3 linked regions of the Homo sapiens genome follow. The protein of the gene in region 2 purifies or fractionates together with the protein of the main gene of each other region. This does not show direct contact. Each region holds a gene or a part of one and is shown on either strand. Other genes may lie near its edges.

Evidence for each region.
Region 1: the proteins of RSL1D1 (region 2) and GNL2 purify together in Homo sapiens (affinity purification with mass spectrometry; 2 studies listed by BioGRID and IntAct, with this or other methods). This does not show direct contact.
Region 3: the proteins of RSL1D1 (region 2) and DDX18 purify together in Homo sapiens (affinity purification with mass spectrometry; 2 studies listed by BioGRID and IntAct, with this or other methods). This does not show direct contact.

What each region holds. Positions count from the first base shown.
Region 1 is NC_000001.11:37,578,932-37,585,958, forward strand, and holds part of GNL2 (nucleolar GTP-binding protein 2), read right to left. Parts: intron 5,003-7,027; coding exon 4,936-5,002; intron 4,006-4,935; coding exon 3,847-4,005; intron 3,406-3,846; coding exon 3,292-3,405; intron 2,615-3,291; coding exon of another isoform or gene 2,411-2,614; intron 1-2,410. UniProt on the Homo sapiens protein: GTPase that associates with pre-60S ribosomal subunits in the nucleolus and is required for their nuclear export and maturation.
Region 2 is NC_000016.10:11,834,543-11,841,569, reverse strand, and holds part of RSL1D1 (ribosomal L1 domain-containing protein 1), read left to right. Parts: intron 1-1,584; coding exon 1,585-1,875; intron 1,876-3,456; coding exon 3,457-3,783; 3' UTR 3,784-7,027. UniProt on the Homo sapiens protein: Regulates cellular senescence through inhibition of PTEN translation. Acts as a pro-apoptotic regulator in response to DNA damage.
Region 3 is NC_000002.12:117,824,670-117,831,696, reverse strand, and holds part of DDX18 (ATP-dependent RNA helicase DDX18), read right to left. Parts: coding exon 6,989-7,027; intron 6,758-6,988; coding exon 6,596-6,757; intron 6,251-6,595; coding exon 6,098-6,250; intron 5,429-6,097; coding exon 5,315-5,428; intron 2,749-5,314; coding exon 2,692-2,748; intron 2,409-2,691; coding exon 2,231-2,408; intron 1,116-2,230; coding exon 973-1,115; 3' UTR 1-972. UniProt on the Homo sapiens protein: ATP-dependent RNA helicase that plays a role in the regulation of R-loop homeostasis in both endogenous R-loop-prone regions and at sites of DNA damage.

The DNA of each region.
Region 1 (7,027 bases), on a different chromosome or scaffold from region 2:
GCTGCAGTGAGCCATGATCGCACCACTGCACTTCAGCCTGGGTTAAGACAGAACAAGACCCTGTCTCAAAAAAATTTTTAAAGTAAAAGAAAAAATTTTTAAGCGTGACTGTAGCAGAAAACACAAAAAAACCCACAAAAATTTGGAGGTAACAGAATCAATGCAGACAGGAAAATTTCAAAACGTCATTAATGATACTGTGACTGTGAAATAAGATGTAAAAGGAGGCAGAGCAAATCAGAATTCAACAAGAGCTCTCAGAAATTAAAAATTAAAAGCAATTGGCAAAATAAATTTTGTGACTGGGCAGCTGGATGATCAAAACAAGGAAAGTGGCCGGGAGCAGTGGCTCACGTCTGTAATCCCAGCACTCTGGGAGGCCGAGGGGGGCGGATCACCTGAGGTCGGAAGTTTGAGACCAGCCTGACCAACACGGAGAAGCCCCGTCTCTACTAAAGATACAAAATTAGCCAAGTGTGGTGGCACATGCCTGTAATCCCAGCTACTCGGGAGGCTGAGGCAGGAGAATTGCTTGAACCTGGGAGGAGGAGGTTGCAGTGAGCCGAGATCGCGCCATTGCACTCTAGCCTGGGCAACAAGAGCAAAACTCTGTCTCACAAAAAAAAAAAAGTACCCAGAAAATAGAGGAAAATGTCATATATGTACCAAAAGAAAAAATATATAGGCCAGGTGCAGTGGCTCATGCCTGTAATCCCAACACTTTGGGAGGCTGAGGCGGGCGGATCACGAGGTCAAGAGATCAAGACCATCCTGGCTAACATGGTGAAAACCCGTCTCTACTAAAAATACAAAAATTAGCTGCGCGTTGTGGCGTGTGCCTGCAGTCCCAGCTACTCGGGAGGCTGAGGCAGGAGAATCGCTTAAACCCGGGAGGCGGAGGCTGCAGTGAGCCGAGATCACACCACTGCACTCCAGCCTGGTGACAAGAGTGAGACTCTGCCTCAAAAAAAAAAAAAAAAAAAAAGAAAGCAAATATAAATCAAGAATTAAACCAGGAGGTAAAAGCAAATTTCTGAACAAGAATACAGACAACTGAGGGAGGAAAGAAAATTTCAAAGAAATAATGTAAGACAATATCAGACTAAAGTCTCATCAAACGCCAAGCTCACTGAGCAATAAAAGGCCCACTTCAAGACACACCACTGTGAAATTTTAGAACAAGAGAAATTTTAAATTTTAGAATAAGAAAAGATTGGCTGGGCGTGGTGGCACACACCTGTAATCCCAGCACTTCAGGAGGCCAAAACGAGGCAGGAGGATCGCTTGGGCCTAGGAGTTTGAGGTTACAGTGAGCTGTGGTTGTGCCACCACACTCCAGCCTGGGTGACAAAGCAAGACCCTGTCTCAAAACAAGAAATCACAGCCACACAAAGTATGAGGGGTCAGAATGGCCTCAGATTCCTCAGAATTCAGAAGACAGTGCAGTGGTAACCTCAGTATTCTGAGGAAAAACAGCATAAAGGGTAGAATAAAGATCTTAATAAAGATATTTTCAGAACGCAAGGCGTATCTCAAAAAAATGTTCTTTCCAAGTATTCCTTCTCAGGAAACTTTTGGAAAATATGTCCCATGGAAAGAAAGGAGTAAACCAGAAAAGAAGAAAAGAGGTCCTATAAATAAGAGGTCCCATACAGGAAAACAGCCATGGGAATTCTCTGGATGACAGTGAAAGGAAATCCCAGAAAGACGACGCTGCAGCAGCCTGGAGAGCGGCCAGCCCTGCGGAGGACGGAGTGCTGGCCACCGAAGGGAACTACCTGTGCTGCCTGGAAGCTCTGACAGTTCCCACTGTATCAGAGAATTTGGTAGTATGATAGTGACAGATACAAATAGAACACAGCAAAGTAACACTAGCGAAAATAAAAGCTTCGATCAGAAAGGAATTATACTCATAGCACACCATGTGGATCAGCTGTGACTAATATTTTACAGTCATGACAATGTAAAGACTGAATGGCCAAGACTACTCTTCCCAGCCTGTTAGAGTGGCCACCCTGCAGGCTGCAACCCTTTATGAGAAATAAAGCTCTCCTTTCCAAGTTAAAACAACAACAACAACCAACCAACACTGAATGAATAATACTGTAACCCAACATTGGCATCTAACAATACAGGGGGAAGTACATACAGAGAGAGGATGGCTATAAGATAGCAAATCCTCATTTTCCATAGTAAGAAATTAATAAGCATCTTAAACTGGGGGTGAGGGGTGGGCACAGATCAAGAAAATCATAAGCATGTACTAAAAATATGGAGGAAAATAACAGAACTAATGGCTATTGGAAGCATTTGCTTCTGTAAAGTGGGGAAGGGTGGGACAGCAGACATGTGTCTTTTGTTAGAAGCCAGGTAGAATTAACTAAATAGACAAATTCAAAATGACAGGTACAGAACATGAAGCTTTAAGAATTTGATAGGGTAGTCTGGTTCCACGGCTTCCCTCAGGAGCTGACGTCTGACCAGGGATCTGAAGCTTGAATTTTGGCAGGGCCCTCTCCAACCAGAGGACATAGAAGCTGCATGGGCTCCATGGGCAGAGGATGCACAGCAGGCCTGGAAAGCCCAGCAGAGCGTGGAACGTCAGGTGCCAGGGCTGTGGCAGAAATGGAAGCAACACTGGTCACGGATGGGGGCAAAGGCTGAGCAAGAAAACACTTCAGAATCTCTTATAATCCTGATGCTCTGTGAGTTTTTACATCTCTGGAAGTTTTTACATCTTCTTCTTCTTTTTTTGAGAAGTCTCGCTCTGTCGCCCAGGCTGGGGTGCAGTGGCGCAATCTCGGCTCACGGCAAACTCCGCCTCCCAGGTTCAAGCGATTCTCCTGCCTCAGTCTCCCCAGTAGCTGGGACTACAGGCGTGTGCCACCATGCCTGGCCAATTTTTGTATTTTTAGTAGAGACGGGGTTTCACCATATTGGCCAGGCTGGTCTCAAACTCCTGACCTTGTGATCTGCCTGCCTCGGCCTCCCAAAGTGCTGGGATTACAGGTGTGAGCCACCGCGCCCGGCCACATCTTTTTTTTTTAGAGGCAGGGTTTTGCTCTGTTACCCAGGCTGGAGTGCAGTGGTGCCATCATAGCTCACTGTAGCCTTGATCTCCTGGGCTCCAGCAATCCTCCTGCCTCAGCGTCCTGAGTAGCTAGGACTACAGACCTGCGCAACCACGTCCGGCTAAGAAGTTGGCAACTTTCTGCTATGCCATGGCAAGACAGATTCTTATACCAACTCACAGCTACACAACTCCAGGAGAAACAGATCAGGGCTCAATACCTTTCCAAACTGCCGCAGAAGCTGAATGAATGCTCCCTTGCCAAACGGGTTAGTAAGGCTTGCATGGAAAGCAAGTGTTGGATAATCCTGGGAGAGGACAGCAACCCACCGTTTCTAGAAGGAGAGATGAAAACATTTTGGTAAACTGCAGTACATTTATTTACATTATGTGGAAGAATCAGAGCTTGAATTACAGAACTGTTTCAAATATACTGTTGTCTAAGGAAAATGTTAGCTATAATTCTTTGAAATGTTTTTTCCAAGTATAACAGTTAATGCTTTGTTCTTCTGTCTTATAAATACAAAACAATATTCCAAAAAATGTCTTCATTGTTACTAAATGCAATTAATGGAGCATAATGTGAAGCAGGCAGTGGCCTCAGAAGCCGTCTCCTGGTGCCTCTGCCCACTATCAATGAGCACACTTTCGTGTTTCCAATGAGAGCACTCCCATTACTACAATCTCAGCCGGACAACACTTTAGCCTAAAAGCCCTACAACTGACTTACTAACAGATGTCTTAATAGTCTATTCTGGTTTAGTAGTTGTACTTACTGTTGCCCAGGTTGGAACAAGGTCACATTTGTTAAGTACAAAAATGAGGTGTTTCCAAGGTTTTTCCTTCTTCAGGTAAGTTTCAATGTGAGGGGAACGAGTACCCATTGGATCTCTAGCATCAAGAACTTGAACTACAACATCTGATGAATCTATCACCTGAAAATTCAGAAAGGCAAAAATGGTTTGCTACAGTACAAATAAAAGAGGGATGACATTTAAGGGAGTCTGGGAAAAATAAAATAATAATATTTAGAGACAACTTCAAAACAGTCTCTGGGCAGAGTTCGTTGTGGCTAATCTCAAGGCCCAGTGATCAGAATTCAAAAGGTTTTTCATCCTGTGGCTTTTGAAACCTGCTGAATTTAAAACAGAAAAACTAGCTTAGATGAAACTCAACTTATTTCCTAACTACTATGGATTATTGAACTAAATCATTTACTTCTTAGACTTCTTTAAGTTTGTAATATTATCTTTAAGTTTGTAATATTATAGGTTTTGTGTATTTCACAAAAAACTACAAAGTTTAGCTTGCCTTCACGGTACTAGTTTCCTATCATGTTACTATTTAATTACGTGATTATACTTGAAAATTTTTCTTCTGAAGGTTATTATTAGTGCATGGACATAAACCTCTGCCGGTTAAAGATCACTGGATCAGAAATCAAGATATACAAAGCCTCCTTCACTAACAAGCTAGTCGAGCTAGGTACAGCATTAAACCTTTCTAGACAGGAGTCCTCATCGATAAAAGGAGAGGGGTGGACTAAATAACTTAAAATGTTGCATGTGACTTTAACTAGGCATGATAAATTTGGCAGGAAATCTTAAAAAATACTGACAGGTAATAAATATGTGATTGTATAATAAAAGATAGCTGTTACTCTTATACAAGTACTTTAAAAAATGCAGTTACCTAGATCAATGGTAGTACGCCTTCCGAGTTTCTTTGTAGGAGGAAGAGGATGGAACAGGCAGTGGTGCCTGTACTCTGCGCAACAGAGCTTCAATATATCAAAATTAGTTTTCTTCTACAAAATCATGAAAGCCCAAGGAACCACTCAATGGGAGAGAATTTAGGAGTCTTACCTTGTAGAGCTCACCCCATATTCTTTTGGACTGTCCCTTTTTATAGATCTCTTCTTGAGCTTCATTTCTAAATAAGAAAGCACCCCAAATGAGCAACTGAAGCACCATCAAGACTAAAAGGATGCTTTAGGGTAAAGTCAATGTACCAAAAAAAACAGTATCAAACCCAGTTGGAGATGGACCAGAAACAAACTGAATTTAAAAAGTGTGCCCAAATGTCTGTCAACAAATAAATGGATAAACACAATGTGGCACATATATACACAAGATAGCATTCAACTTTAAAAAAGAAGGAAATTCCAGCTGGCTCAGTGGCTCACACCTGTAATTCCAGCACTTTGGGAGGCCAAGGAGGGCAGACTGCTTGAGCCCAGGAGTTCGAGACCAGCCTGGGCAACATGGCAAAACCCCATCTCCACAAAAAATACAAAAATTAGCTGGGCATAGTGGTGCATGCCTGTAATCCCAGCTACTGGGGAGACTGGGGTGGGAGAACTCCTTGAGCCCAGGAGGTTGAGGCTGCAGTGAGCCATGAGCAGGCTACTGCTCCAGCCTGGGTGACAGAGCAAGACCCTGTCTCAAAAAATAATTAATTAAAAAAAAAAAAAAAAGAAGAAGAAAATTCTGACACCTGCTACAACACGAATGAACCTTGAAGACATTATGCTAAGTGAAATAAGCCAGACACAAAAGGACAAATACTGTATGATTCCACTTATATTAGGCACCTAAACCAGTCAAATTCATGAGAGAGAAAGTAGAATGTTGTTACCAGGGGCTGGGGGAGAGGGGAAACGGACCGTTAGTGTTAAATGGGTACAGGGTTTCAGTTTGGGATGATGAAAAAGTTCTGGAGATGGATAGCTGCAATGATTGCACAACAATGTAAATGAACTTAGTATCACTAAACTGTACACTTGAAAATGGTTAGAAGAGCTGGGCACAGTGGCTCACACTTGTAATCCCAGCACTTTGGGAGGCTGAGGCAGTGGATCATAAGGCCAGGAGTTCGAGACCAGCCTGACCAACATGGTGAAACCCTGTCTCTACTAAAAATACAAAAAAATTAGCCAGACGTGGTGGCGGGCACCTGTAATCCCAGCCACTCGGGAGGCTGAGGCTGGAGAATCGCTTGAACCCGGGAGGCAGAGATTGCAGTGAGCCGAGATCACATCAAATGGTTAGAAGAGTACTTTTTTTTTTTTTTTTTTGAGACGGAGTCTCGCTCTGTCGCCCAGGCTGGAATGAGTGGTGCGATCTTGGCTCACTGCAACCTCCGCCTCCCGGGTTTAAGCGATTCCCCAGCCTCAGCCTCCCAAGTAGCTGGTACTACAGGTGTGCGCCCCTGCGTCCAGCTAATTTGTGTATTTTTAGTAGGGACTGGGTTTCACCATGTTGGTCAGGCTGGTCTCAAACTACTGACCTCAGGTGATCCGCCCGCCTCAGCCTCCCAAAGTGCTAGCATTACAGGTGTGAGCCACTGCGTCTGGCCACATTTTTTGTTACATATATTTTACCACAATAAAACATTAAACTAAAAAAAAGCATGACTGAATTAGGCAGTATGTCACAGAGAATTACAAAATGGAATTGGCAGGACCTGAATCACAACCTATACTCCATAGCTCCCATATACAGCAGTATTTTTCTGATAAGGTTTAGAATCTGTTTATTTACTAGTCTCTAGGACATTTACCCAAGGTAAACAAAAATAGTTTTGTCTTTACTGCATTACCTACTATACCTGTTGCGGAAGGAAAAATTCAAATCGGCAGAATACAAAGCCAACGAAAGTTCAAATAATTCTAAGAACAAATAAATGAACTCACTGCCTCTTTTTGCTTGGCCTCAAATGGCTTGACATTTTATCTCTAGGTGGCCCAATGCTTGAAGATGGGCTGACAATAGCAATGAGGTAATAACACTGATGCAGTCAAAGGACAATGCCTCTTCACTAAGACAGCAAAACCTCCACTTCATTTAAGAGACATGAGATGGACGAGAATGAGAGCTTTCTAGCACTGCCCAAGGGAAATGAAATTAAACCCTTTCTCAAGAGCAATGTGGCAGCTGCCTATCAAAAAGCATGCAT
Region 2 (7,027 bases):
TTTTGTCACTTTACATGAGGTAAAATGGGTATGCTTTTGTCACTTTACATGAGGTAGTTGATGTTAGTAATGCGCATTAAGATAGAAATATCTTGTATTTATTGATAAATTGGATTTTTTTTTTATTTTTGTTAGATCCAGTGCTTGCTGGGTTTTTTTAGAGAGACAGGGTCTCACTCTGTCCCCCAGGCTGGAGCACAGTGACGTGATCAAGGCTCACGGCAGCCTTGACCTCCTGAGCTCAAGCAATCCTGTTTCAGCCTCCCGAGTAGCTGGCACTGCAGGCATGCTTCACCATGCCCAGCTAATTTTTAAATTATTTTTTGTACACACATGGTCGCCCTGTTTCCCAGGCTGATCTTGAATTCTTGAGCTCAAGCGATCCGCCTGCCTTGGGCTCCCAAAGTGCTGGGATTACAGGCATGAGCTACTATGCCTGGCCTGGATTAACTGGCTTTTGAGGGGGCCTGAGTTAAGTTCCTACCACATATTTCCGGTCATAGAAACATCACCATACTTCTAAATAAAGACCAAAACATTTAAAATATTAAACATTGAAATAAATGTGAGCTATATATACATTTGAAACAGTAATAAAAGGAATTGACATAATTATTTACCCAGTTATTCCCATCCACGGTTGTAGGTGGCTGGAGTTTAATCCTGATAGCTCAGGGAAAAGGGTAACAGGCAAGAGCCAACCCTAGAAAAGGCGCTGTTTCATCACAGGACAAACTCATACACCTACATTCGTTGGGACTGGGACTGGGATAACTTCAACACACCAGTTCACCTAATGTGCACGTATTTGGATGTCGGAGGTTATGCTCACAGATACCTCCTGAGCTTGGTTTGTAGGTTTTCAGTATTACTCGTACTCTAGCAAAAGAAGCTTTCGGAAGGAGAGAAAATTTAATTTTTTGCTATTTGTTAGACTGATCTCCTAGTGTTTCTCTCTTTAGCCATGTTAATTGTGTCCAATGAATTTTTAATTTTGTTTTTGAGACAGAGTTTCACTCTGTCGCCCAGGCTGAAGTGCAGTGGCATGATCTCAGCTCACTACAACCCCCCGCCTTCCAGGTTCAAATGATTCTCTGTGCCTCACCCTCCTGAGTAGTTGGAACTACAGGCACGTATCACCATGCCCAGCTAATTTTTGTGGTTTTAATAGAGATGGGGTTTCACCATGTTTACCAGGCTGATCTCGAAGTCCTGACCTCAAGTGATCCTCCTGCCTCAGCCTCCCTGAGTGCTGTGATTACAGGCGTGAGCCACCGCGCCCAGCTGAGTATTATTCTTTACACTCTAAACCATACTGTGTTTCACAAAAGTCTCTTAACTGTATACTTTAGATAGTCAGATTCTGAAATGCCGGTATATAATTTACTGCATAAAATGCATGTTTGGCTGTGAGTCAAAAACTGCGGTTGAGGTTCCAGTGCTGGTTAGGGAGTTTGTTCTCTGTATAGATCGAGGTCCATTTAGGGGCTTATGGATAATCAAAACTGCACGTGGTACATCTATGCCGTTTGTTAACCAACAGAACTGTTCCTGCTAAAATGTTTGTATGGTGTTTTTTGGTAGGAGGCAAGGAGAAAACGAAGAGAAAGAAATTTTGAAAAACAAAAGGAGAGGAAGAAGAAGAGGCAGCAGGCTAGGAAGACTGCATCAGTTCTTAGTAAAGATGATGTGGCACCTGAAAGTGGTGATACTACAGTGAAGAAACCTGAATCAAAGAAGGAACAGACCCCAGAGCATGGGAAGAAAAAACGTGGCAGAGGAAAAGCCCAAGTTAAAGCAACAAATGAATCCGAAGACGAAATCCCACAGCTGGTACCAATAGGAAAGAAGACTCCAGCTAATGAAAAAGTAGAGGTATTGTTTTAATATTTACTGTTCATAATGGATTGGTTCAGTGGCTACTGTGTCAGGCAGGTACTGTGCTGAGCAATAAATGATGAAAAATACTAGAGTGAACCCAAAGAACTGTGAAGGTGGTTATCATATCATGATTTATTGTACCTTTTTTTTTTTTTTTTTTTTAGATGGGATCTTGCTATATTGCCCAGACCGGTCTTACACTCCGGGGGTCAAAACAGTCTTCCCACCTTGGCCTCCCAAAGTGCTGGGATTACAAGTGTGAGCCACCACACCTAGTCCCAACCGGTTGGCTTTTTTTTTTTTTTTTGCTTTGCTTTTTTTTGAAGATGGAGTCTCACTCTGTCACCCAGGCTAGAGTGCAGTGGCATGATCTCAGCTCACTGCAACCTCCGCCTCCCTGGTTCAAGCAATTCTCCTTCCTCAGCCTCCCGAGTAGCTGGGATTACAGGCGCGCACTACCATGCCCAGCTAATTTTTGTGTTTTTGGTAGAGACGGGGTTTTGCCATGTTGGCCAGGCTGGTCTTGAACTCCTGGCCTCAGGTGATCCGCCCGCCTTGTCCTCCCAAAGTGCTGGGATTACAGGCATGAACCACCGCACTCAGCCACCAGTTGGCTTTTACACAGAGAATCTGGGAACCCTTGCCCTACACCATGTGCCAGGGATGTGCAGCTACATTTGGAAGACTCAGGATTTGCTCCCATGTGTCTCTGCTGTGCTCCTCATGGTGCTTCCAGGATTCCCTCCCCTCAGTCATAGGGAAAGGTGGTTTTCCTCTGATTGGACCAGGAAGACCTCTGGGTCTTCACAGTTTTTTTTTGTTTTTTTTTTTTGAGACAAGGTCTCACTTTGTTGCCCAGGATGGAGTGCAGTGGCATGATCTCGGCTCACAGCAACCTCCACCTTTCGTGCCCAAGCAATTCTCGTGCCTCAGCCTCCTGAGTAGCTGGGATTACAGGTGTGTGCCAACATGCCTGGCTAATTTTTGTATTTTTAGTAGAGATGGGGTTTTGCCATGTTGGCCAGGCTACTCTTGAACTCCTGGCCTCAAGTAATCCACCTGCCTCAGCCTTCCATAGTGCTGGGATTACAGGCATGAGCCACCTCACCTATACCTCATTCTTAATAGTGGAATACAGCTTATTTCTGTCATCATACTGAGGTGTACCTTTTGGGGGTTAACTAATAAAAACAGTAACTTGGCCATGCGCTGAAAAACAGTAACTTGGCCGGGCACAGTGGCTCACGCCTGTAATCCTAGCACTTTGGGAGGCCGAGGCAGGTGGATCACCTGAGGTCAGGAGTTCGAGACCAGCCTGGCTAACATGGTGAAACCCTGTTTCTACTAAAAATACAAAAAATGAGCCGGGCGTGGTGGCACACACCTATAATACCAGCTACTCGGGAGGCAGAGGTTGCAGTGAACTGAGATTGTGCCATTGCACTCTAGCATGGGCAGCAAGAGCGAAACTCAGTCTGAAAAATAAATAAATACAAATAAAAACAGTAACTCCTGGAGTTAGAGTGTCAGGTTTTGTGGCTTTTTCTATATTAAACTTACTTTTTTTTTTCTTAGATTCAAAAACATGCCACAGGAAAGAAGTCTCCAGCAAAGAGTCCTAATCCCAGCACACCTCGTGGGAAGAAAAGAAAGGCTTTGCCAGCATCTGAGACCCCAAAAGCTGCAGAGTCTGAGACCCCAGGGAAAAGCCCAGAGAAGAAGCCAAAAATCAAAGAAGAGGCAGTGAAGGAAAAAAGTCCTTCGCTGGGGAAAAAAGATGCGAGACAGACTCCAAAAAAGCCAGAGGCCAAGTTTTTCACCACTCCTAGTAAATCTGTGAGAAAAGCTTCCCACACCCCCAAAAAATGGCCCAAAAAACCCAAAGTACCCCAGTCGACCTAAAGTCAGTGATTCAACTGGAAGGAAACCTCAATGCTGCCTCCAGAGCTTTTTGGAAATACTCAGATCCTGGCCGCCTTTGTAACCTTCTCTAAACGTCAGGCCTGGACTTAAAAGATTTTTTAAAACCTCCATAAGTAGTCCAGGGGCGGTGGCTCACGCCTGTAATCCCAGCACTTTGGGAGGCCGAGGCAGGCGGATCACAAGGTCAACGAGATCGAGACCATCCTGGCCAACATGGTGAAACCCTGTCTGTACCAAAAATACAAAAATTAATTGGGCATGGTGGTGGACACCTGTAATCCCAGCTACTAGGGAGGCTGAGGCAGGAGAATTGCTTGAACCTGGGAGGCGGAGGTTGCAGTGAGCCACTGCACTCCAGCCTGATGACAGAGCAAGACTCAGTCTCAAAAATAAATAAAAATAATAAAACCTCCATAAGTAATCCTGACATATGTTCCTGGGTATAATCTGTTTCTAAATTGTCCTTCTGTGTATTTGCTAATGTAATAGAGGGAAAAATAGAGTGCTTCTCTGTGGTTGTTCAGCACTTTAGGTAGCCAAGGTGAGAGGATTGCTTGAGGCCAGGAGTTTGAGACTAGCCTGGGCAACTTGGTAAAACCCCATCTCTACAAAAGAAAAAAAAAAATTAGTGTGGCATGGTGGCATGCATCTGTGCTCCCAGCTCCTCACGAGGCTGAGGTGGAAGGATCAAGTGAGCGCAAGAGGTTGAGGCTCCAGTGAGCCACGATCACCCCACTGTGCTGTAGCCTGGGTGACAGTGTGAGATTCTGTCTCAGAAAAAACAAAGTATAACATTGCTTTGCTTCTGAGTATACTGTTGGCTTTCCAAATCAGTGGGTCTGACTTGAGGTCTGTGATGTGACCCTTTTCCTCACCTGCTCAACCATTATTCACATGGACTCCATCATATTCATTTGTAGTCATTCCCAGAGTGGCCCAGTGAGGGTCTCGCTGTATGAGAGTCGGCTACGGAATTTAGGAGAAACAGAAGTTTCTTGGCTTTCATGCTGAGCTTGTTGGTCTAAGCTTATGAGTCACTGGATTAGCATCCATATGGGAAGGGAAATTAACATGGAGTCATTTATACAGGGACTAAATTGAATCCTACCTACCGGAGGCAAGAACATGATTTATCTTCCATAAGCCTTATCCTCTTCCTCCTTATTCCTCAGTCCATATGGATTTGCTTATGTATGACAACTCCAAGGAATCTTGGAAGAGTAGATTGCTAACGTTTCCACAATTGTCAAGTATATTCTGAGGCAGTAAACACCTTTTTAGGTACGTGGCCTTTCACTGGTTGTGAATTGGTATGCATCCGTAGTAGTAAGTTCACAGATTCACTGCAGTGCAGGAATGTTCTTGCATGCCAAAGACTCAACTGCTTTCAAAGATAATGTGGGTGCTAGATGCAGTGGCTTACATCTGTAACCCTGTTAGGGTGACCAGACCCAACACCAGGTCGTGGGGGTGACAAAGTCCAGTGGAGTCAAAGGATTGAGAAAAAGACAGTTTGAGAGAGAAGTAGGACCAGCAGACCATCGGGATGGTGGAGGCTGTGAAGGCCGTGAGCTCTGGGAGCCCACACTATTTATTGGTAATCCAACAAAGAAACAGATGGTGAGAATGTGAAGGTCAGAAGGGCACCTTGCATTAAGCACATGATTTACAGCTGTGATGGTTTAGCATTTGCTCTGCTACTTGAGATGATGGAGAGCAGGTTCTTTTAACTCAAGTTACAGTCGATCCTGGGAGAGCAAGGAGCCAGCAAGTCTAGACATTCCAGAGCCACAGGCCCTGGATTTTATCCAAGCCACGAGGGATTTTATGCCCTGGGCTTAGATTATGGTGCGTCAGGGCAGCCTTCCACCCTTTAGCACAGAGCTTGGTGTTCCAAAGACCACAAGGGGTTTTAGACCCTTGACCCTGGACATATTCCAAGACTCTTTTACATTATGTCAGAATGCAAGCCCTGCCTCAGCTTCTCCCAACACTCAGCTTTTCGCAACATAATCCCAGCACTTTGGAACGCTGGGTGGATTGCTTGAACCCAGGAGTTCGAGACCATCCTGGGCAATATGGCAAAACCCCATCTTTACCAAAAATAAGCTGGGTGTGGTGGAACATGCCTGTGGTCCCAGCTTCTTGGGAGGCTGAGGTGGGAGGATTGCTTGAACCCGGGAGGTAGAGGCTGCAATGGGCCATGATCACGATCCTGCACTCCAGCCTGGGCAACAGAGAGAGACAGTCCCTGGCCCACTGCCCCCTTCCCTGGCCCAGTCTCAAAAAAAATGAGGCTGGGCGTGGTGGCTCACATCTGTAATCCCAGCCAAGGCTGGCAGATCACTTGAGGCCAGGAGTTCTGAGACCAGCCTGGCTTACATGGTGAAACCCCATCTCTACTAAAAATACAAAAACTAGCCAGGCATGGTGGGAGGCACCTGTAATCCCAGCTACTTGGGAGGCTGAAGCAGGAGAATCACTTTAACCCGGGAGGTGGAGGTTGCAGTGAGCTGAGATCACACCACTGCACTCCAGCCTGGGCGGCAGAGCAAAACTGAAAAAAAGAGAAAAAAAAAAACATCTAGCTCTCCCTGAAATTAGAGGAGTCTAGCCTGCTTTTGCTGTTTTTTTGGTAGCGAGAGTAGCGGGCAGTGGGGGAGATGGTCTTACTCTGTTCCCCAGGCTGGAGTGCACTAGTGTCATCACAGCTCCAGCCTCAATTTCCTGGGCTCAAGGCGATCTTCCCACCTCAGCCTCCCAAGTAGCTCAGACTACAGGGGCATGCCATCACAGCTGGCCAGTTTTTACGTCTTGCGTAGAGATGGGTTTTCCCTGTGTTCCCTAGGCTGGGCTCGAACTCCTGGGCTCAAGTCCTCCTGCCTCAGCCTCCCAAAATGTTCAGATTACAGGCATGAGGCAGCATGCCAATCCTGTTTTTGCATTTTAGTAACACAAATTGTAATGTTAACTTTTTAAATTATGAAAGCATCTAAAATATAAAATTATTTGTAACCCCACTGTCCTTTTGGGCTTCTATAAATGAATATACATCTAAAATGTGGGGGTTTAGCTTAATTGATTGTTTTCCATAGAAACTAGGTTTTATGGGAAGATGGTTGGATAGACTTGTTTCACTTAAAGGTCTGGTTTGTGTAGGACAAACCCACATATGTAATCGTGCCAGTCTGTTCTCTGCATGACATAATTTTCCAGCAATAGC
Region 3 (7,027 bases), on a different chromosome or scaffold from region 2:
AGGTATTTTTTTCTCAGAAAGAAGCTAACATTAATGTGTGCTGGGCACCGTCTGACAGCTTGGCTCTAACTCCAAGTAAGTTGCCCTTGTCTTCTAAGTACTCTACAGAGTGCAAAGGCTTACCAAATCCAAACCACCTTGAATTAAACAAATCTTAATGAGGAGCATCATCGTTCTTTGTATGAAAGTCTTTGTTATGTTACCAAATGAAGAAATGCAGTACATTACACCTCTATTGATGTAAATGAGGCTCAAACATCTCAATTCCATCCTCTTCCTACCCCCCAGCCATCAAACGTTATAACTGCTTAGTGACACTTTATTCAAATTACAACCCATAGTTTTTGCTCCAAAAAATGCAACACCTGAGAAAGGCCTGTTGCTTTAAAATCAAGAATCTATAAAAGCAATGCCACCCTAATCTTAAGGTGCTTCTTAGGTATTTCCCAAAGCTCTTTGCTCTTTTATACTGCAGCATTTTCAGGAGGAGTCATTAGATACTGTCAAGGTCCAAGAAATAACTAAAAACAAAAAATAACCTGAGACTCTTTTCTGCACCGCCACCAGCTGCCCAGTACACTAGGTCACCTTTTACAGCAGTGAGCACAGCAATCCATGCCACAAAAATCTTCGCAAAACAAGAAGGAAAGGTACAAAAAGAATTATATTAAAATGGTAACATACACTTGTATGAGGGAGGGATATTTAAAATTAAAATATTATCATCACAAGAAACACCAGATATTCCTTGCTCTGCCCTTGGGCAACCAAGAAACTTAAAGCCTGTTTTATATCCCAGAAATAAAAGAGAGACGTGATAGAAGTAACAGTGCTCAGTGCTTGCAACCCAAGTCAATTTATACTCTTGTTAGGTAAGTCCAAATTCTAAAGTCTACAAAAATCCTGTTAAATCAAGGGGAAAAAAAATTCATTTTAGGACAAAGTTATTCAAGATGAAAGGAAGGCATGTGTTCAGTGAGAGAACTGCCTGCTGTCAGATGATTTCTTGCTAATGTGTTTAAAGATTTTGGATTTCTCAACTTTCTTGGTTTTCTGGTAGCCAAATCCACCACCACCTCCTCGCTTTTTCTGCTTGCCTTCATTACTGTTGACGTCTGGAGGCAAACATTAAGGAAATCAAGCAAAAAAGATAATGAACTCCAATCTAACATCTACACAGAGAAAAAAACCGGCATGAACACTACTGTTCCTCCACAACCCCATTCTCAACAATGAAAATGTGGGAACATAAGCCTATGCAATAAATTTCCAGAAAATTAGGAGTGGCCACGTGACTGTGGACTTAAATTAGCAGGTATGATTTTAAACTTCGGTGTGTAATAGTCATATTAATTATTTCTTCCACACGATGAAATTCATGACAGTGAATAAGGATTTATGAGTTTAATCAGGAAGTTGGTAGGAGCACATTAAAAAAACACCTCCTGTGTCAAAACAAATGACTATCATTTCTCTTCGGAATTGATTTAGGAATGCCTAAGTGAAGGAGCTGCTCTTCCTTCCACAGGACTCGACATACATTCATTTCAGCTGACATTTACTCAATGCTGACAATGGGGATGGTGACCCAAAATTTGGTCCTCTAGTTCCCTCAGAAGTTACCCCTATGGCACTGAAGCACAGGCCTCATTTCAGCTGCTCAGTTTCTTCTTCTGAAAGGCACAAATTATAAATCACAACTGAAGCAACTGGAAGTACTCCTGCCTTTTATCTTAAGCAACACCTAAGTTTTATTTTCTTTTGCTGAACTTGCCACTTTCTTGCATAAAATCCTTCAGGGGTTCTAAGATGATTAAAACTCCTTGAAAGGTCCCATCCTCTCTTTAGCTTCAAAACACCCCATTCACCTAAGTACCCTGCACAGTGCAGCCTCAGCAAACACTGAAGTTTTGATTTTTTTAACCTGTGTTTCTGCCTGGAACACACAACTGTCTCTGTCTCTCCTTGACAGTCAAATTTCTTTGTCTTTTGAAGGCTCAAGGCATAAGCTGCCTTGTCCCTGTAACCCCATCCTAATGATTAAGCCCTGCTTACCCCATCCAACCTCTATGTCCTGTGCTAGCACAGAAAAGCAGACATCGACCAGGGTGAACACTGGAGCCTCCAGTCTGAGCCAGAACACATACCAATCCACTGCAAAGCCCCAAATGCCCCTCTGTCAAGCTTTTGTTCCTTAGTCACAGGATAACTTCATTAAAGAAAAGGATACTCAGATCAACGAAGGGAGGCACCTTGAAACCAAATGACAGAGCAACCTGAGGCAAATTTAGGTTATTAACATTAAAGATCTGTTTCAGAGAATGGGAATCATAGGCTCGTATGTATGACTTATATGCTTCCTGGGCTGACTTATGAAGAAAGTAATTCTTTTCAATCAATTTCTCAAGCTGAAATAGAAAGAAACACTGGTTTTAATAAACAAAAACAAACAAAAACCTCCAAAACACCAGATTTTAAATATCCTAGAGCAAAGCCACTCCATGGAAAACATTTAAAGAGGGCACAGAGTGGTGATAACTAGAATAGCAAGAAACCTTATACACTACACAGCCTGATCCTCACTTTAGGACAGGGTAGACTTCAAAGGACAGTGATTGCCCAGTGAATCACTACAAACAGAGTGCTGGGACAAGGTTCCTGTTTACTCACAAACGTTTAAAAAGCACATACCTGAGACTGAATGTCAGAAATTTTAGACCAGGAAAAGTCAAATTCACTTAATGGAACCTAGAAATCAAAAGTATTAAGATTAGTAAACCAGGATGATCAGCATTCCGATACTGGGTACTGAAGACAGGGAAGGATGAACCGGCCTATGAAATTCCCTCAGGACAGAAAGGAAAATCTGCTTTTTCTAGTCTCCCAATGTTGATGGGAAAGTTACATCTTTGCTCTGCTGAGTTAGGCAATCTGCACTTCTTTCTTTCTGAAAGGCAAGGAACTGGATAGGGACACAGTCAGTAAAGCACTTTTCTGTAAGAATCTCTATAATCCTGACTATTTGCAACCATGAATCAGCTTGAAGCTTCTAGTCAGAAGGGCCATCAGCCCCTTTTCTCCATGTCAGAAGAGGGGCCCTAATACCCCCACAGTCCTGTATTGAGGCTTGTGACACTGGAGGCCATGATGACCACAAACTCCTACAGGATGGATCTGCCATCAGTTATCACTCATTAGATAACTAGAAAAGCAACAGGCCTGTGCCAGGTGCTAGAGAGAAAATAGGTACCTAACTCATGGACTCTGCCCTCAGAGAGCTTGCCGTCTTGAGGGGGAGAAAGATAAGTAATGAAATGTCAACCTGTAGATTCTGGATATTAGCCCTTTGTCAGATAGGTAGATTGCAAAAATTTTCTCCCATTCTGTAGGTTGCCTGTTCACTCTGATGGTAGTTTCTTTTGCTGTGCAGAAGCTCTTTAATTAGATCCCATTTGTCAATTTTGGCTAGGACTAATATCCAGAATCTACTAAGAACTTAAACAAATTTACAAGAAAAAATCAAACAACCCAATCAAAAAGTGGGCGAAAGATATGAACACACACTTCTCAAAAGAAGACATTTAGGCAGCCAACAGACATGAAAATATGCTCATCATCACTGGCCATCAGAGAAATCCAAATAAAAATCACAGTGAGATACCATCTCACACCAGTTAAAATGGCGATCATTAAAAAGTCAGGAAACAACAGGTGCTGGAGGAGATGTGGAGAAACAGGAACACTTTTACACTGTTGGTGGGACTGTAAACTAGTTCATCCATTGTGGAAGACAGTGTGACGATTCCTCAAGGATCTAGACCTAGAAATACCATTTGACCCGGCCATCCCATTACTGGGTATATACCCAAAGGATTATAAATCATGCTGCTATAAAGACACATGCACATGTATGTTTATTCACAATAACAAAGACTTGGAACCAACCCAAATGCCCATCAATGACAGACTGGATTAAGAAAATGTGGCACATACACACCATGGAATACTATGCAGCCATAAAAAAGGATGAGTTCATGTCCTTTGTAGGGACATGGATGACACGGGAAACCATCATTCTGAGCAAACTATTGCAAGGACAGAAAACCAAACACCGCATGTTCTCACTCACAGGTGGGAAATGAACAATGAGAACACTTGGACACAGGGTGGTGAATATCACACACCGGGGCCTGTCGTGGGGTGGGGGGAGGGGGAAGGGATAGCATTAGGATATATACCTAACGTATATGACGAGTTTATGGGTGCAGCACACCAACATGGCACATGAATACATATGTAACAAACCTGCACATGGTGCACATGTACCCTAGAACTTAAAGTGTAATAATAATAAAAAAAGAAAGAAAGAAAGAAATGTCAACCTGATGAGCACCTGTGCTGTGGGAACAAGGAGGCAGGAGATCAGCGATGGCTTCCCAGCAAAGACAGAGGCGAGCTGAAACCAAGCATTCTGGACAAAGTGTGCAAAAGCTGTAGAGCAATTTCAGGGAACTGCCTGCAGTTACAGGGTAGAGGAAGCCTATCATCAAGACTATGCCAGAAAGGCCAATGAGGATGTAAATGTCAGGCAGGAGAAGGCCTGATATGCATCCCCCACATGGCCTAGCAATGAAGAGGCCACTTAGGGTCCTGATGGATTCAATTCTGGTGTGATAGTAGAAAGCTAAAGCCAAATTAGGCTGGTTAGGGACTGAGAGGGAGGTAAATGGCAAGAATATAAGCCATTTTTCCAGTAAGGCTGACTGAGGAAAGGCAACAGACAGTAGCTCCTGCAGGCAGGGGTAGAAGAACAGGTTTAAGGTTGAAGTTACTTTTTTACAGTGAGAAATTTGAGATGGTAAAGCGCCAACCGCAAGGAAGAGACTGTAGGCCAAGAGTTGATGAATAGGAGACAGAGGGCAGGGGAGGAGGCAGAGGCTAGAGCGAACAAGGATTCCCCACTGCTTCACATGAGGTAAGAGGAAAGAAGGGGAGCAGAAGCAGAGATGACTAGGTGTGAGGGAGCTTCAAAGGAGTGGAGAAGGTTTCAAAGAGGGCTGGAGGGAACAGGAAAGGAGAGGCTGGGACACAGAGGTGTTGCTGGGTAACAGAGCTAGAAAGCCGAGCCATGTGGGCAGTTCCTTCTGTGCTCACTTCTTGGGCTAGAAGTACATAAAACCTTACTTGCTTAATTGCCATAAGAATGGTTGTAACAGCACTGGCCAGACTCGAGACTCCTCTGACACATGTAGAAATGTTGCTTGCTAACAATCCCTACACCAAGAGAAATCTTTCTCCAAGTACAGATCTTTACCTTGGATTGTTTCAAGTAGCGAAGAAAACCCAATTCTTCTGGGCGCAAAATGAGCAAGGCATGCCCTCTCCCATTTAGGCCTCTGGCTGTTCTACCCACACGATGAATATATTCCTTTGGTGGAGAAAGAAAATCTGAGTTAACGCAGTGACTTCCACATGAGCCCATTTGCGTATCTGCATCCTGAGTATGTGCATGTCTGTACTGAGATGGTGTAGTCCCACGGTGCTGGGCCACACACACCTTCACCACACCCCCACAAAGCTGGGCCAGCAATCGCTCTGTGCACATCACCCCCAATAGGCCAATGATTGAGGCCCAAAAAAAAAAAAAAAAAAAAAAAAAAAAGGCTGGACATGATGTTTGCATTAACAGCGATCTAATAAAATGAGTATTATGTGTGCTTCATCATCAAAACGGCTTTAATCCAGTGTTTGTTGAAAATACTTCTCAATGAAGCTTATTCTACCACATATACTACAGAAGTTTATCTACTTCCTTAAGCAATTTTATTTCCTTCAGGCATCTGCTGTTCTTAAGAGATCATTCCAAGGATCTCATTTTCATAACTTAAGTCCCACTGATCCTTTTCAATCCTCTGGCACAGCCCGTTTGAGCCCTGAAAAGCCTTAAGTACTTTTCAATACCAGAGAAATACTGCAGTCACTGTATAGTAGGGATCTTTACCTTGAATGTGGAATGCAGTTTCCGTCAGGGAACTGGGAGAATAAGTGAACTTTTAATGCAGAGTCATTCTGAAGATATTCCAAAGATGCCAGTTACCTTAGGGTCATCCGGAGGGTCATACTGAACAATCCAGTCGACTTCAGGAATGTCTAGTCCTCTCGCTGCCACATCCGTACACAATAGTGTTCCCGAATCTGCATTGCAGAACTGGAAGAATGTGGTTGTACGCTTATTTTGCTTTTGCTTTCCCTAGAATTAAATAAAAACATCCATTAGAGCTGGAATCTTGAGGAAGACTAGCAGTAGAACCCCCAAATTGTGGAACTGTTACCCTATTTCGAGCTCATCCCTTGGCCTATGTCCTATTTCCCCAACTGTTCCGCAAGCCCCTCAAGGAGGATGGTGTCTTGCACTCTTCGAAAGTCCTCATACCCCTCCACACCCAGCAGCGCTCCCCCACACAGGATCCATCATCTAGTGGTGATCAAACTACTCAGAACAATGTTTCCAGGAGAGGGCAATACCTCCAATCCTACAATCTATAGGATTTAATAAGCATACCCTGTTTTCAATGAGCTCATCATCATCACTTACATGAATGGCCAAGACGGGCAAATCAATGTAGTTCAGCAACTCATAGTGGTATTTCACAGACATACAAGATGAAAAGAAGACCATAAGCTTCTTCTTTCGGTTCTTCTTAAGGAATGTAAAGAGCAGAAGGAATCTCTTTTCAGAAGGACAAACAACATATCCCTAGAAAGCGTTTAAGCAGACAGATACAAATGAACCAAGTGGACATTTTCCATTTCCTAACTTGTGTAATTTCATCAAGAGCACTGATAAACACAGTGTGTAAACTGTCATGCCTCACCTACAGCATTTTAAAAGTTCATTAACCCATTTGCTTTCTGAATGATCCTTCCAACAATTACATAAAAACACCAAGTAAGATCCCTACAGTTTTCAGTTATTGATAAAAAGTACCTGTTCAAGACCATCCACTGTTGCATTCGCTTTATCATC